2 separate regions of the Homo sapiens genome follow, and region 1 is linked to region 2. Evidence: fine-mapped expression QTL. Tissue or cell type: whole blood. Region 2 holds a variant in brackets; the other region holds the start of a gene. All regions are shown on one strand. Distances are between the middles of the regions.

What was found. PIP is the estimated chance that this variant, and not a neighbour inherited with it, causes the effect.
Region 1: FPR3 starts here. The variant in region 2 is fine-mapped to the expression of FPR3 in whole blood (TOPMed, PIP above 0.99).

The regions. Positions count from the first base shown.
Region 1 is chr19:51,791,218-51,799,466 of GRCh38, forward strand. It overlaps FPR3 (formyl peptide receptor 3), which reads left to right and starts at 3,940. Exons shown (of 2, transcript NM_002030.5): 1 at 3,940-4,114.
Region 2 is chr19:51,828,863-51,837,111 of GRCh38, forward strand. It overlaps a transcript of ZNF577 not described here. Among named protein-coding and RNA genes, the nearest start is that of FPR3, 38 kb to the left of the region's middle. The variant C/T (reference allele first, on the strand shown) is at 3,904.

The DNA.
Region 1 (8,249 bases), 38 kb before region 2:
CAGGCATGGTGGCACATTCCTGTAATCCCAGCTGCTTGAGAGGCTGAGGCACGAGAATCCCTTGAACTCAGGAGGTGGAGGTTGCAGTGAGACGAGATTGCACTGCTGCACTCCAGCCTGGGTGACAAAGCAAGACTTTCTCTCAAAAAAAAAAAGGAAAGAATAAAAAAAGAAAAACCAAGGTTAGGATGCCAACAGATTCCATGTCTGATGAGGGCCCATTACTCATAGACAGCGCCTTCCATATGTCCTCACATGGTGGAAGACAGACAAGCTCCCTCAAGGCTTTCTTACAAAGGCACTAATCCTATTTATGAGGGTGCAACCATCACGCTCTAATCTCCTCCCTATGGTCCCGCCTTTTAATACCATAACCTAGGGGGTTAGGATTTCCCATACAAATCTGGGGAGGGGAGAAACAAACATTCAGACTGTAGCAGATGCAGCAATAGTAACTTTAGGAATGTGGAATTTATAAAGAGCACTCATTCTTCCCCATTCCCCACAGCCATCCAGTCTCCAAGGCTGGTCTACTCAGCCTGGACAATCTGTCTCTAAGCTACGCCTCTTCTTGATCACACTATTCCTGCCCTGGGTAGCTCTTCAAGAACCTTACCTTGATTTCTGGCAACATTCTCCATTCTAATATCTCTGTCTCCAATTAGAAACATTCTCAAAGGCATCCCTTTGCAGGACTACAGAACAATATTTTTCAGAAGCACACACCTGACAAGTCACTGTCCTGCTTAAATGGTTATTCATGTTATTATGAAGAAATTCCAAGTCCTTCTTGTAGCATTCAGGACCCTCCAACAGATGGCTTCTGCCACTTGCTACACACTCAGTGTTTATTGCTGTCTGCCTCACCATCTATGCTCCAATAACCGCAGGTAACCTGCTATTTTTTGACCCTTTCCTGCGTGCTTTCACTCTCCTCTGCCTGGAATGTATTTTTTTTTGCTTCTTTATCTGAGTCTTTAAGATTCATCCCGGATGTTATCTGCATTGCACTTGGAAGTGACCCTGGACCCTGTCAGTCTCAGTTAGTTGTTCCTTTTGGGAAATCTCATAATGAACCAGGCATCTGTCTATCACTATATACCCCCACTCTACTGTGACTGCTTAGGGAAATGGCAGAGGACACCATTGTGCACAAAGGGTGCATAAGACTATGCTTAGTCACAGTAGAGTGACGCTGTCACCTCTTTACCTGGGTAGTCGGCATCTCCAGGGTAAGGCACATGTCTGTTTAAGCTCTATGTCTGCAGGAGCCAGCAAGGGAGCACCTCTTCAGAGGCCTCATGCAATACCCACCACCCTTTATTATACTGATAAGTAAATTCCATTTTAATCAGGTGGCAGGTAGCAATGTGCCACTGTCCTAGGAAAGCAATCATGATTGGCCTAAGCCAATATGAGCAACTTGTCTTTTTTTTTTTTTTTTTTTTTTTTGAGGTAAGGTATTGCTCATTGCCCAGGCTCGAGGGCAGTGGCATCATCATGGCTCACTGCAGCCTCAACTTCCCTGACAAAGCAGTCCTCCCACTTCACCTCCTGAGTAGCTGGAACTACAGGTCCACACCACCACACCCAGCTAATATTTTTTTGGTTTTAGAGATGGGGTCTCACTATGTTGCCCAGGCTGGTCTTGAACTCCTGAGCTCAAGCAATCTTCCTGTCTTGGCCTCCCCAAATTCTGGCATTACAGGCGTGAGCCACTGTCCCTGACCTTTATTTTTATGTATCGGTATTTTTGTTATTTCTTGGCCATTGATTGGTCTAGAGATGGCATGCTCTGGCAATGAAAGACAAGGAGAGGTCCTGAAGAGACTCTGGACAAGGTTTCCCTCTGTAATAAAATGGAAGAGGCATGTGAATGAGTCACATTTTCTGCCTGTCTCATGATTCTGGCTCGGGAGGGCCTGTTGATGCAATGTCCAGAACAGTGGCAGCCATTCTGTGGTCACTTTCAAGAAAGCCCTAGAAGAAAACCAATATGATGATGGAGTGGAAGGGTGACATTAAACTCAATTTTTGTTCAAACTCCAGATCTATCCCCTTCCAAAACTTTTTTTAATAATAAATTTCTCCATGGCTTATGTGCTTCATTGGTTTACTCTACCTTATCACTGAAAACATCCAGTGAATCAGAGAGAAAATAGAAAATAGTTGACTCTTGTTTTGTGGCTCTCCACTGTTTTTCATGGTTCTATTCCTTGGGCTTGAGAACAACATTCTGATGGTGTTTAAAAACTCAGAAAGAGCCCATCTCCTTAGATCAGTAGTCCATAGAGCATCTCCCTAGGGGCAGAAGGTTAGGGGGTTAATCTCGGCAATGGTGTGGAGTGTACAGTGTCTCTCATTTACCTTCCTTACCTCTCTACATGCTCCTAGTTACTGCTTCTCTTTGTAACTCTGAGGTATGAAATACCTCAAAGCATATTTGATTTTGTCACAGATTTCTGGCACAGGGCTCTTAAAACCCTTGGAATTCCCTGAGTGATAGGAGTATTATTTGTTATTCATAAACAGCCCCTTTTGATCATAGCTGAGTTTATGCTAAGGAGATCATGGCCTTAGGATGGGACTGGTCACCAGAAAGACCAAGGGATTAGAGGGTTGGAGCTGTCAGCCCCACCTACTGATCTCCAGGAAGGGGAGGCAGGGACTGGAGATTGAGTTCCATAAAAACTCTTGAACAATGAGATTTGATGAGCTTCCACATTGGTGAACACTCAGGAGTGCTGGGAGAGTGGCTGCCTGAAGAGAGCATGGAAGCTCCATGCACCACCCAACCCCTTCCCTGCCATATACCTGCCATATGCCTCTTTCCAATGGACTATTCCTGAGGTATATTCCTTATATAAAGCAACAGATGCAAACAAAGTGCTTTCCTGAGTTCTGTGTGCCATTCTAGCAATTTATTGGTGTCATTGGAACACCCAATTTATAGCCTGTCAGTCAGAAGTACAAGTAGCCACCTGGGACTTGCAACAGATGTCTGATCTGATCTGAGAACAGTTTGTGGGAGTGAGCCCTTTAGCTTTTCGGATCTGAGCTGAATCCAGGTAGACAGCATCATAACCGAATTTTTAATTGCAGGTGGCCCAGGTGGTGTCCCCAGAGAATTGGAGAATTTCTTGGTGTAGAGAAAAAGTATATTTGGTCAGAAGGATTGTGAAAGTAGAGAATCGAGTTTTTGTTTCACCGTGCATCTTTGTTTTTTTATTGTTTTTCCTCTCATTCTTCTCACCTTGGTAATTGTTTCTTTCATTTTCCTGAATCTCTGAAAAGAAAGGGCCTGGACTCTCAGATTTCTTGGCCTTTGATATTTGGAAGGATGAACTCCAGTCTCCCACAGAAGGCTAGAGGTGAAGGAACATTCAGACACATAAGTTTCCAAGATAAATCGTCTGAGAACATCTCCAAGGTGTCTTCTGGGAATGGTAAGAAACCCTGAGTTTGTGTCACTGGATTGATTCCAGCTCCATTGTCCCCGTGTCCTTCAACTAAGTCTCTGCTGAAGCCTGTTCTATAAAAACAGCAAGTAAGTGGTTTGGACTGACCTATTGTACTAGGTTCGACAAAGCAAACCAAATGGAGTCAGTCATACTAAAACTCCACATCACCAAACCAAAACTAATGTATCTGAACTTTTGAGAAATCAGGAGAGAGAGAAAATGGACAAATTCCTAAAACAGGCCAGTTTCAGTGGGCATGAACATGAAGTTCTGTCTGCTTTCATCTTTACAAAAAAAAAAAAAAAGCAATCTGTGGTAACTTGACTTCAATCAATCAGTTGTTCCTTATTGCTGTCTCTCTATTCCTGCTGCACAAAAAAAATGCAACATCCAGATGACCAATCAGGTTTTTGTTCTCTGTTTCTGCTTTCTTTAGCCCTCCTATCCCTGTAAAACCAACTTCCTTGGCTCTAACTATCAAAACACTCATTTTGTTTTATAGCATGACAGGCTGTCTGATTCCATCTTTATAACCAAAGCCAATTAAGATCTTAAAACCAAACATATAACTTCATCTTTTTACAAGTACTTAGAGCCTGAGTTGCTCCACAGGAATCCAGGAACTGGGCACAGGAAAAGGATCTAAGCTGGTGGTAAGTTGGGGTCTGAAAATTTTAAAGTTATTGTTGAAATGCCTGCTATATGACAGAGCCCTTCTAACTCTGGAGTAGCGTAGTCCAGTGAAGAATCCACTTCGTTAGTATGAAAACAATGTTAACTATTTCATTAACAGTGTTTAATTTGGTTACATGTTCCAGTAACATTCTTTTTTTTTTTTTTTTTTTTTTTTTTTTTGATGGAGTCTTGCGCTGTCACCCAGGCTGGAGTGCAGTGGCACAATCTCAGCCCACTGCAACCTCTGCCTCCCAGGTTCAAGCGATTCTCCTGCCTCAGCCTCCTGAGTAGCTGGGATTACAGGCACCTGCCACCACGCCTGGCTAATTTTTTGTATTTTTAGTAGAGACGGGGTTTCAATATGTTGGCCAGGCTGGTCTTCAACTCCTGACCTCGTGATCTGCCCACCTCGGCCTCCCAAAGTGCTGGGATTACAGGCGTGAGCCAATGTGACTGGCCAATTCTTTATCATATATGTAATTAAATAAAATTTATTACTAAAATAATTTCCCCAAAGGTGTTTTACTTTTTTAAAAACAGTGGCTACAAAAAAATTTTGAGTCCCATATGTAGCTAAAGTTAACACATTATATTTCTACTGGACATGTAGCATTGTAGAGATGTAGCATTGAAGGATCTTGATAGTCCTGTGGAGCTTACGTACTAGTGTGGAGGGTATTTAAGAGAGAAGATAAATGAACAAACAAATAAAGGAGAAAAGTATCTGGTGAGATAGGCTGTACCTGAGCATTCTGCTTTGCAGAGTGGGTGAGGTGGGATCTCTCTGAAATAATATTTGACCTGAAATATGAATATTCAGGATGAGCCAGGTGCAGGAAGCTCAAGACGAAGAGCACGGTAGGCAGAAGGAATAGAGAAAGCAGAAGCCCTGAGATGACAAAGAGCTGCAAGTTCAAGGAATTAGAGCCCAGTGGGTGGAGCCCAGTGTGTCTGATGAGAGTGCAGAGATGAGGTCTGAGGGATGCACAGGGCACATGTGGCAGTGGATAAGGGAACCTAGGATAAGGGAACCTAAGATAAGGGTAACTTAGAAGTCTGGAAGCCATCGGAAGGTATTGCGAATAACATCACCATCTTATTGGACCTTTTTAAAGCTCATTTGGTTTCTGTCTGGAGAATGGATCTTAGGGGAGGGGGCAGCAGGACCAGGAAAAAGCTATTTGCAAGGCTTGTGCAAATATCCAAGCCTGACAGGGCCATGGACACCGGTCGTGGAGATGGCAATGGCTCTGGCTGTGCATTCAGCATGTTCTGTAGATAGAATGAGTAAGACGTGGATGGCGTTGGGTGGTGAGGAAAAGAGAAATGAAAGGTGAGTTCTAGATCTGGAGCTTTAACAACTGAATATTTAATCTCCAAATAGATACAGAATATTGGAAGAGTGGCAGGTCTGGGAGGCAGAGAACATCAACAGTTTGGTAAAACCATGTGAGGTTTGGAGTCTATGGGACTCCCACGGGGAGAGGTTTTATCAGACTTGAGTGCCAGGGAGAGGCCACGGCTGATAATTTAGATGAAAAGACAGCATAATGGTTTAATCCCAGAGACTGGATGATATCATTTATAGAATGTGAGATACCCCAACATTTAGAGTCAAATTTAGAATAGAAAACACCGTAAATTGGACTAAAAAGAGGAAGAGAATCGAGCTGTAGAGACGACCAAGAGTGTATTGTGTGCACATATCTCTTGGATATATCTCATGGCATAGGAAAAATGTGTTTGAAAAGGGAGAAAGTGATCCAATGGGTCCTGTGTCATTGGGATATCAGGTCTTAAAAACTGAGAAGGACTCACTGGATTTGGCAGCCTGGGGGTCATAAGCATCCTTGGGAAAATGCATTAGGTGGAGTGCTAAGGACAGAAGTCAATGTGGAGTGGATTAAGGAGAACAGCTGAGGCGAAGAAGGAAAAGGAAGAATTAGAGACATTCTCTTTGGATGTTTGGCTGGAAATTCTGTCTTACAGACAGACCTTACAGAGAGGTCATTTGGCTAGATAGGGTTGAAGCTGGAAAGAAATATGCTTCAAAGGAGGTTTCTCTTGAAAGAGAGGGGGCGTGATTATGTGATAGAATGATCTAGTAGAAATACAATTTTCAATTTTTTTGGTATAAAAAATGATCTTTTATCCCTCACCACATCCCACCTCAATCTAAGTCTTAACTTTCTCGTCTGTACAATGGTTATACAAATTAAAACTAACATTAATCAATATTCACCGTGTCTCAGGGTGTGTTGAGTGCTTACACATATTAACACATCCCATCCACAGAGCCTATGAGAGGAGTTGTGAGGGTTAAGGGAGAAGCTCTTGGTGTGTGGATAATGTTCATAAGTAGAAGCTACTATTGCTATAAGCATCGTTCTTGTCCTGACCCTGAGCTTCATAGTGCAGGGTTCGGGATTGTACCCCACAACACAACACACAGCCTGGTGAGGGCTAAGAGTTCTAATTTGTTACAGATTTACCGACCTATCCTAGATGATTTCCATGTCTATTCTTTTTTTTTTTTTTTTTTTTTTTGAGACGGAGTCTCGCTCTGTTGCCAAGCTGGAGTGTAGTGGTGCAATCTCAGCTCACTGCAACCTCTGCCTCCTGGGTTCAAGCGATTCCCCCACCTCAGCCTCCAGTCCATGTCTATTCTATTTAATCCTCCCCTGAAAATCAGTCTTTATCAAAAAACCATTTCAGTTCTGCAGAGGGGAAAATGGGGGCTCAAAGAGATGTCACTGATCAAGAATTTACACCATCGAGGTGTCAGAGATAAGATCAGAGTAGAGATCTAACTGACTCCAAAGCCTGGTACTCTTTACACTGTTACAGTGACACCCAACTGGCAGGGGGAGGGGGTGGGAGGTATTTTGCCTCCCAGGGGATCTTTGACAATGTCTTTTGGTTGTCACTCCTGAATGGGGAGTTGCTACTGGCATCTCTGGATAGCGGCCAGGGGTGCCGCTAAACATCCTACTGTGTACAGAACAGTCCACCACAACAAAGAATTAACCAGCCCAAAATGCCATTGGTGTCAAAGCTGAGAAACCCTGAGCTACACTAAACAATGTCCCTGGGAAGACCTCAGTGAAAGTGACTGATAATGATAGGAAAAAAGAAGGAAATGAGTAAAAGAAATAGGAGAAAAAATTTATTATACGAGGGCAGGACCCTATCCTGGTAATTTTGGAAGAACGCCTTTCAATGGCAGCACTTGAGCGTGCAAAGGTAGTGGCTCTGTTCGGTCTGGTTTACAAATCTTCCTGTCTCCACTGACTGGCTAGGTATGATGCTGAAAAAACTACAGGAGTCCCTGGGCCATGGATTCTCCCTAGTAAAAAAGGGATGATGATGGCTGCCTCACAGTGTTATTATGAGTATTAGATGTAAACAAGTGCTACATAATTGCTATCATTCTTAAAGAGGCTAAATAGCCCAGGGTGGGAAGATTCTCAGATTTTCATGATCATAGAAAATTGCTGTAGCTTGGCTGGGCGTGGTGGCTCACACCTGTAATCCCAGCACTTTGGGAGGCCGAGGAGTTCGAGACAGCCTGGCCAACATGGTGAAACCCCATCTCTACTAAAAATACAAAAAATTAGCCGGGCGTGGTGGTGGTGCCCAGCTACTGGGGAGGCTGAGGCAGAAGAATTACTTGAACCCAGGAGGCGAAGGTTGCAGTGAGCCGAGATCACACCGCTGCAGTCCAGCTGGGTGACAGAGGAAAAAAGGGAACCATTCGGACATTTGCCCCTGAACTTGAAGTGCGCCACACCCCACTCCCACTGCCAGTTGCCACCCCCGTCAGCTCTCTTTCTGCCTGTCCTCTTGCTCCTCTGAGTGTGGCCTCCAGATGTCTCATGTACCTCCCGGGGTCTGTGAATACTAAAACCTCTCGAACTTTAACACTGTCGTCGCCTCATTGAAGCCGCACCCACAATCCAACCCACGATGTGAGGCTGCCCGAAAGCGACCTGGGCAGTTGGATCCCCTCTTGATGTTCTTTTGTCCTGACCTCTGGTGGCTGCTGAGGATGGTCACTAGCAGCTGAGTTGATAGAGAAACTTGAAGAGCTTCATTTAATACTACTGGCATAGC
Region 2 (8,249 bases):
CTCTCTGAGCCTTCAGGCTCCCCTGCAGCTCCTGGAGGGCAGGTTTCATTGTAATGAGGATGTTTCGCTATGAACAGTAGTCACTCTTTCTCTAATCAGGCCCCTGGTGACAGGCCACTACTTGAGGGCACGTTGTCCCTTGAGCTATATATGCTGCTCTTGTTACATGGGGTCTTGGTAGTAGTCTGGCCTGTACTGGGTATAAGTTGCAAAGTCCTGGTCTCCAGCCAGAGTGAGCTGGCCAGTATGGTGAAACTCTATGTCCATCTCTGCCAGGGTCCAACCTGGCCGAATGACAGATGAAAAATGCACTCTGAGACTGATATCCAGTGAAAAAGCAGGCTAGGGGACTGGGCAGCTCACAGACACCGAGGAGGGAGCTGTAAAGAGTCAGTAGCCACAGCCCCGACAAGCTGGCACTGTGGGCATTTATTCAGTACAGATTTAATGACAAAGGCCTGGAGTCAACACGTCTTGTGGGTAATTAACATTGTCACCCCCCACCCCCCAAGACAGCAGTCCTGTGCACAGATGATTAAATACCAGGTTCCGAGGCCTAAGTAAACTAACTTATCTAGATCAATTCCTTTACACTTCCTTGTTATCCATTCTGAGAAAATTCAGCTGCCTTCAGCCAAATCCTCTTCTGAAGCTATGCAAATCCCAGGCCTTCCAAGAAGGTTTGCATCCTTTTCCTATAATTTATCTTACAACTTTTCCCACCATCCTGACCGATCTCCTACACATCTCACTGATGAGAGAGCCACAGGATACCAGGCTCCTGGGTAGCAGCAATTCCCTCATAGTGAAGTCAGAAAAGATGATAAAATGCTGGGCTTCAGTGTGTTGATAAAGGAGAGCCAGGATGAAAGGATCAAGTCACCTAAGCCTAACCTGTAATATGGCAACTGCACAAGTCCCCTTGGCAATTTTCAAGAGCAAGTGCTGCTGAGGCCAGTGCCTCCTTGGTTGCTGCATTCCTTCCTGCTATCACTCCTTGTCCCCACTAGCCACTCAGAGGTCAAGTGGGGCACCTTCAAAAGGGAAACAACTGCCCACAAGGCCAGTGCAAATGGAGCTCACCCCCAGATGTTTTTAGTAACAATTTGTAAAGTCAAAACAACAGGGTGCCAAACCCAAGGTCATCTAGATTTTCTCCTGTTATCTTCTAGGAGTTTTATAATTTTGTCTTTTACATTTAGGTCTGTGATCCATTTTGAGTCCTATTTATCTGGTGGAAACCTGACTGACATAGCATATGCTTCTAGTGTTTAAAAAAAAAAAAAAAAACAGAGGAAAGATGAAGCATTAACTAATATAAATTAGTAGAAATTGAGTGGAAGAAATGAAAATAGTCTCTCTGTCTACTTTATCATGCCATTTTCTTTTTGTGTTTTTGCCATCAGCATATACATCTGTTCTCTAATCTACTAACTGAAAACATAAAAACCTTTTGTACCACACGCGTCCTCCTGAACTTTACAACAAATTTCTCTGCTCTCCTTGACAGCAAACTCAAGGGTCACTTCCAGTTTCTTTCTCTACTTCCTCATTTCACATTTTCTCCAGAACTCATTCTAAATGGGTTCATGTCCTGATTACTGCAGTGGGACTACTCTTATCAAGGACAACAGTGACATCCATTGCCATGTTACTGCACTGCAGGTTCAGACATTTGGTGCTTGCCTATGAATCCAATGGAGTAAATCTAAGTCATATATGCTTATCTGATAATGATGGGAATCTTAGGCCCCTAAGCATATATGACTCAGTTGTCCACACCCTTTTATTTTAAAATATATAATTCTCTTGGTGACATCACACTTGTTTGGTTTTCTTCCTACCTCAGTGATTTATCTTTCTCAATCTCCTTGACTGGCTCTTTTCTGACTTTTAAATGTTGGTGTACCCGAGGGCTCAATTCTAGACCCCCCTCATCTATTTGCATCAATGCAGTCATCCTAGGTAATGTGTTCCTATAACTTGAAATCCCATCTGTACATAAATGACTCCCCCTAAACATCCATCATAATCCACAACTTCTCTTCAGGACTCCAGACTGGTATCTACCTCCCTCCTCTGCATTTCCACTTGAAAACCTATGGGGCATCATCAAAGTAAAACTATCAATTTGATTCCCCCTGAAACAGTTGCTTGACAAATCTTCTACATTTCTTCCAAATTTAGGAAAAGTCATCACACTCTACCAAATGTCTTAAGTCCCAAATATAAGTAATTATTGATTCTTTATTTTATTTATTTATTTTTTATGAGATGGAGTCTCACTCTGTTGTCCAGGCTGGAGTGCTGTGGTGCGATCTTCACTCACCGCAACCTCTGCCTCCAAGGTTCAAGCAATTATCCTGCTTCAGCCTCCTAAGTAGTTGGGGTTACAAGGTTCATGCCACCCCGCCTGGCTAATATTTGTATTTTTAGTAGAGATGGGGTTTCACCATGTTGGCCAGGCTGGTCTCAAACTCCTGATCTCAAGTGATCCACCTGCCTTGGCCTCCCAAAGTGCAAGGATTACAAGCATGAGCCACTGCACCCGGCCTATTGATTCTTTTAATCTAATCCATCACCATATCCCATTGACTCTATGTCAAAAACGTGGACCAAATCTGTGTGTTTCTTTCCTGTCCACTACCACCTGACTTCAAACCATCATCATCCGGACCACTACAATAGTTTCCTAATCTTTCTGCATTCACTCTTGCTCTACAGCAATCAGTTATTTACACAGCAGCCAAAGTTTTTTTTTTCTAATATAAACATGATCGTGCCCATCTCTTGATTAACACCCTCCAATAGCTTCCCATCATGCTAATAATAAAAACATCTGAATCCACTATCTGACTCCCAAAGCCTCATATTATCTGGCTTTTGCCTGTCCTTCTGATGGTCTTCCTCAACAGTTTTTCTTTCATCGATTATGTTAGTAATTACACTAGTAATATCTTTATTTCTCAAACATACCAAATCATTCTTGTCTCAGAATCTTTGTACTAACTGTTGTCCTGCTTGGAATATTCTTCCTCTTGAACTTTCATGTGACCAGTTCATGTAATTCTAATCTCAGTTTAAACATAACCTCCTCAGAACATTTTTTTCTGAGTCCCTAAGATAACGTAGCCTCTCAGGCTCTCTCCAGTCTAGTTCAGCAAATATTTTAGTTCTTTTCATAGCACTTGTTGTAGCTTTTTGTCAATCACAAAATCACCTCCCTTCTCTCATTCTTTGCTGGTCTGAGAGCCTTTGACGCCTCTGTTTTTCTTCATCTATTGTAGCAGCCTCCACATTCATCTGTCATTTTTCAGTGAGAAAGAGAGTGGGTATCCAGAAAATGAGGTCTGAACCATATACAGCAGAGTTTGTTAAGCCTGAGGTAGACACCTGGTAGCCATTAAAAGATACAGAGCAATGTGATGATCTGCTCTATTTTTTTTTAATTTGTATTGAGTCTAAAGCTTAACCATAATTTTCTTTTTTTATTTTTATTTTTTATTTTTTTGAGACAAGGTCTTACTCTGTTTCCCAGGCTAGAGTGCAGTGGTGCAATCTCAGCTCACTGCAGCCTCTGCCCCCTGGGCTCAAGTGATCCTCCTGCCTCAGCCTCCCAAGTAGCTGGGACTGGAGGTGCAAACCACCATGCCTGGCTAATCAACCATAAAAATTTTTCATTTTTATGAAGTCCAACTTATTCCTTTTTTACAGATTGTGCTTTTGGTGTCATGTCAAAGAATTCTTTGGTTAGCTCTTGGTCCTGGACATTTTTTAATGTTTTCTCCTAAAAATGTAGTAGTTCTACATTTAATATTTAAATCTATAATCCATCTTTAATTATCTTTTGCAAAGAATGTGAGGCTTAGGTTGAGTTTCTTTTTTGTTAATATTTTTAATGTC[C/T]AATTACGCCAGTATCATTTGTTGAAAATAATATTCTTTCTTCATTGAATTTTTTACGTATGTCAAAAGTCAATATTGTGTGTGGATCTATTTCCGGACTCTATTGTGTTCCATTGGTCTGTCTACCGTTTAGCCAATATCACACTGTCTTGATAATTGTAGCTTAATAGCAAGTCTTGACATACTCCAATGTTGTTCCTTTTCAAAAGTAATTTGGCTATTTTAGTTCCTTTGCCTTTCGATATAAATTTTTAGAATTAGGTTAATGTTTTTTTAACTTGAATCACATTGAATCTATGGATTTGCTTGAAGAAGAACTGATGTCTTAATCATATTCTGTCTGCAGTACTCTCTTATTCAGTACTAATCTTTCAACTCTATCTGCCTTGTTCTTCCCAACTCCCAACTTTATCTTCTTATTTCAAAGAGTCTACCGGGCTCTACCTGTGTTTCCCCTCCTACTCTGTGGCCTGGGAACTCTCTCAAGTCAGTAATCAAGGCAATCACGGGAATCATCTTATTTGTTTCCCCTTTTTTGGAGATTACAATGCTATACTACCTGTTGTCCAGTGTCAGAAAACCATTCTTTCCCATTTTCCCTAGATTTTTAGTTGTTTAAGGTAGGAGCATAAATCTGGTCTCTCTTATGCCATCACCGCTGGAAGTAGTTATGTTGATTGTGTTTTAAAAAGTCATTTTTTGCTTCTGTTCATGGAGAGAGAGAGCTGTTTGCAAAAGCTAGTTCAGGCATCCAGACAAGAGATGGCATGAGCCTGTAGGTGATTCTTGGGGTGCATAAAATCAGCAGCACTTGGATTTTGCTTACCAAATGAGAGAAAAATCAATAATAAATTTTAGACTTGGCACTTAATCTACTGAGAGGACAATGCCTCTGATTCCTAAAAGAAAGAAAACTGAGGAAGGGGCAGGTCAGGGAATAGGAGAACTGGGGATACTGTTTTCAGAATGTTTAGTTTGTCATGCCTACTGCTTGTGTTCACAGAAATTCCAAGAAGTTGACTGATTTTATGAGGCTGGAATTTTGGGAAGTGGTCAGGGCTGATGGTTTAGATTAACAGTTAGGGGTACAATATATTTTTTTCTTTTAGTTTTAGTTCACATCGTAATTGTACATGTTTAAGGGATACAGAGTGATATGTTGATACATGCATACAATGTGTATAATAGTCAAATCAGGGTAATTAGCACATCCATCACCTAAAACATTTATCATTTCTCTATGTGGTGAAGATTCAAAATCCTCTCCTCTAGCTTTTCAAAAACACACAATAGATTTTTTTTTTTCTAGCCACTTATGTAGCTACAAAAATAGTACTGGAGTAGGGGCAGGGTCTTGCTCTGTCACCCAGGCTGGAGTGCAGTGGCACAATCATAGCTCACTGCAGCCTTAAAACCCTGGGCTCAAGTGATCCTCCACCTCAGTCTCTGGAGTAGCTGAGGCATGTGCAGCCACACTCCTTTTATTTATTTATTTGTTTTGTGGAAACAAGGTCACACTATGTTGCCCAGGCAAACTCCTGGCCTCAAGATACAGAGAATTAAAAAGCACAATCAAGTAACCTAACTGACATTTATAAACCATTTCTTACACCTAAGAGTAGGATATTTCACATAATACCCAATATAATTCTTTTCAAGTGCTGGGTTATAAAATAAGTTTTAATAAAAATCTAAGGCTTTAAATTATACTAAGTATATTCCATGACCATAATCTATCAAATTAAAAACCAGCAATAACAACATAACTAGCAAATGCCCAAATCTTTGGAAACTAAACAACATATATGTAAATAACCCATGGGCCAAATAAATCTTAATGAAGATTAGAAAATATTTTTAACTGAAGGATAAGAGGAGTACATTTCAAATTTTGTGATTTAAAGCTAAAGACAGTGTGCACACGATTTTTTTTTTTAAGACAGGGTCTTGCTCTGTCACTCAAGCTGCAGTGAAGTGGCAGAATCACGGCTCACTGCAGCTTCAACCTCTTGGGCTCAAGCAATCCTCCTGCCTCAGCCTCCTGAATGGCTGAGGTTATAGGCACTCACCACCACATCTGGCTAATTTTTAAATTTTTTTGTAGAGGTGGGGTCTTGCTATGTTGTCCAGACTGCTCTTGAACTCCTGGCCTCAAGCAATCATCCAACCTGAGCCTCCCTTACAGGGGAATTTTTACCTTAAGTGTTTTTATTAGAGAATAAGTGTGTGAACTCAATGATCTAAGTTTACATTTCAAGAAGCTAGAAAAATATCAAATTAAATCTAAAGAAAATATAAGAAAATAACTTTTAAAAGTGGAAATAAATGAAATAGAGATCAATAGAAGAGGAAATATTAAAGTTATGTTAAGATATCAATAAAATGGATAAGTTTCTAGCAATACTAATCAAGAAAAAAGAGAAAATACAAATGACCAATCTTAGGAATGAAAAAAGGAACATTATTACAGAGACTAAACACACTAAAATGATATTACAAATCACTTTATAACATTATATTTGACAATTTAGATGAAATGGACAAATTCCTTGAAAAGCACACATATGAAACTGTCATAAAAAGAATTAGAAAATCTAAATAGTCCAATACCTAGTAAAGAAATTGAATTTCTAATCAATACCCATTAAAAAAAAAAAAAACTTCAGGCTTGCATTGTTTCACCTGTGAATTCTACTGAATATTTAAGAAAGAAGTAACATCAGTCTTACAAGAAACACTTCCAAAAGACAGGGAAAAAAGGAACACTTACTAGTTTACTTTTAAATACATCTGTTCAATACAAAAATTGTGCTTGAAGAATAAAGTGATTTTTATGAACTGAAGTTAAAATTAATATTAATAAATTTTTTATTTTAACCAATATTTCAGAAAAGTTATGTTTTCACTGACATGGCCAGACATAACTGAAATCAGTATCTTTTTTTTTGAGACAGTCTTGCTCTGTTCCCCAGGCTGGAGTGCAATGGCACGATCTCGGCTCACTGCAACCTCCGCCTCCCTGGTTCAAGCAATTCTCCTGTCTCAGCCTCCTGAGTAGCTCGAATCACAGATGCCTGCCACCACGCCCAGCTAATTTTTGTATTTTTAGTAGAGATGGGGTTTCACCATGTTGGTCAGGCTGGTCTTGAACTACTGACCTCAGGTGATCCACCTGCCTTGGCCTCCCAAAGTGCTGGGATTACAGGCGTGAGCCACCGCACCCGACCTTGAAATCAATATCTTAAGTAATGTTTGGATCATGCAATTTTAAAGTGACACATACTTTACACATTAGTGGTTTTAAAAAGTTTTTCTCACATTGATGTCATGGCAATAAATGGAAGAAAAAAATACCTAGTTCTTGAAAACAATAATAAAAACCTTTGTTTCTAATGATTACTCATCATGTGGAAATTTGCAGTGAAACCAAAATGAAGCCAAGTAATTTAATTTCTACTCTTCAAAAATCTCTGTATGTAGTATTTCTGGAGTATCTGACTAGTATAATAAGGTTTTTTTGCCTTTATTGTCAGACACTTCATTAAATCTTAAGGTGGTAAAAACAGTGTGAAATCATCATAAAATCTTACCATTCAAATAAATGTACTTATGTTTTACACTTTTTGAAATAGATATTCTGACGGGGGTAAGATAATATCTCATTGTGGTTTTGATTTGCATTTCTCTGACGATTTGTGATGTTTGGCTTTTTTAATGTACCTGTTGGCCATTTCTATGTCTTCTTCTGAAAAACGTCTATTCATGTCCTTTGCTTACGTTTTAATGGAATTACCAGTTCTGTTGTTGTTTCCACACGAACATTTTCAGATGAACATTCATTGAGATTTTATTCATAAAAGTCAAACCTGGAAGTAACTCAGATGTCTGTCAACTGGTGAGTGGATACACTATAGCATATCTGTATGATGGAATGTTAGAGTTAAAAAGGAATTGCTAATAAATGCAACAACATTGTGAACAAAAGTTCCTGAAAAGGGCTGGGTGCAGTAGCTCACGCCTGTAATACCAGCACTTTGGGAGGCTGCGGCGGGTGGATCACCTGAGGTCAGGAGTTCAAGACCAGCATAGGCAACATGGTGAAATCCAGTCTCTACTAAAAATACAAAAATTATACGGGCATGGTGGCACGCACCTGTAATCCCAGCTACTTGGGAGGCAGAGGCAGGAGAACTGCTTGAACCCAGGAGGCAGAGGTTGCAGTGAGCCCAGAGGGCGCCACTGCACCCCAGCCTGGGTGACAGAGTGAGACTCTGTCTCAAAAAAAAAAAAAAAAGAAAAGAAAAGAAAAAATTATCTGAAAAGGAATGTGAAGGAAACAGACTTTA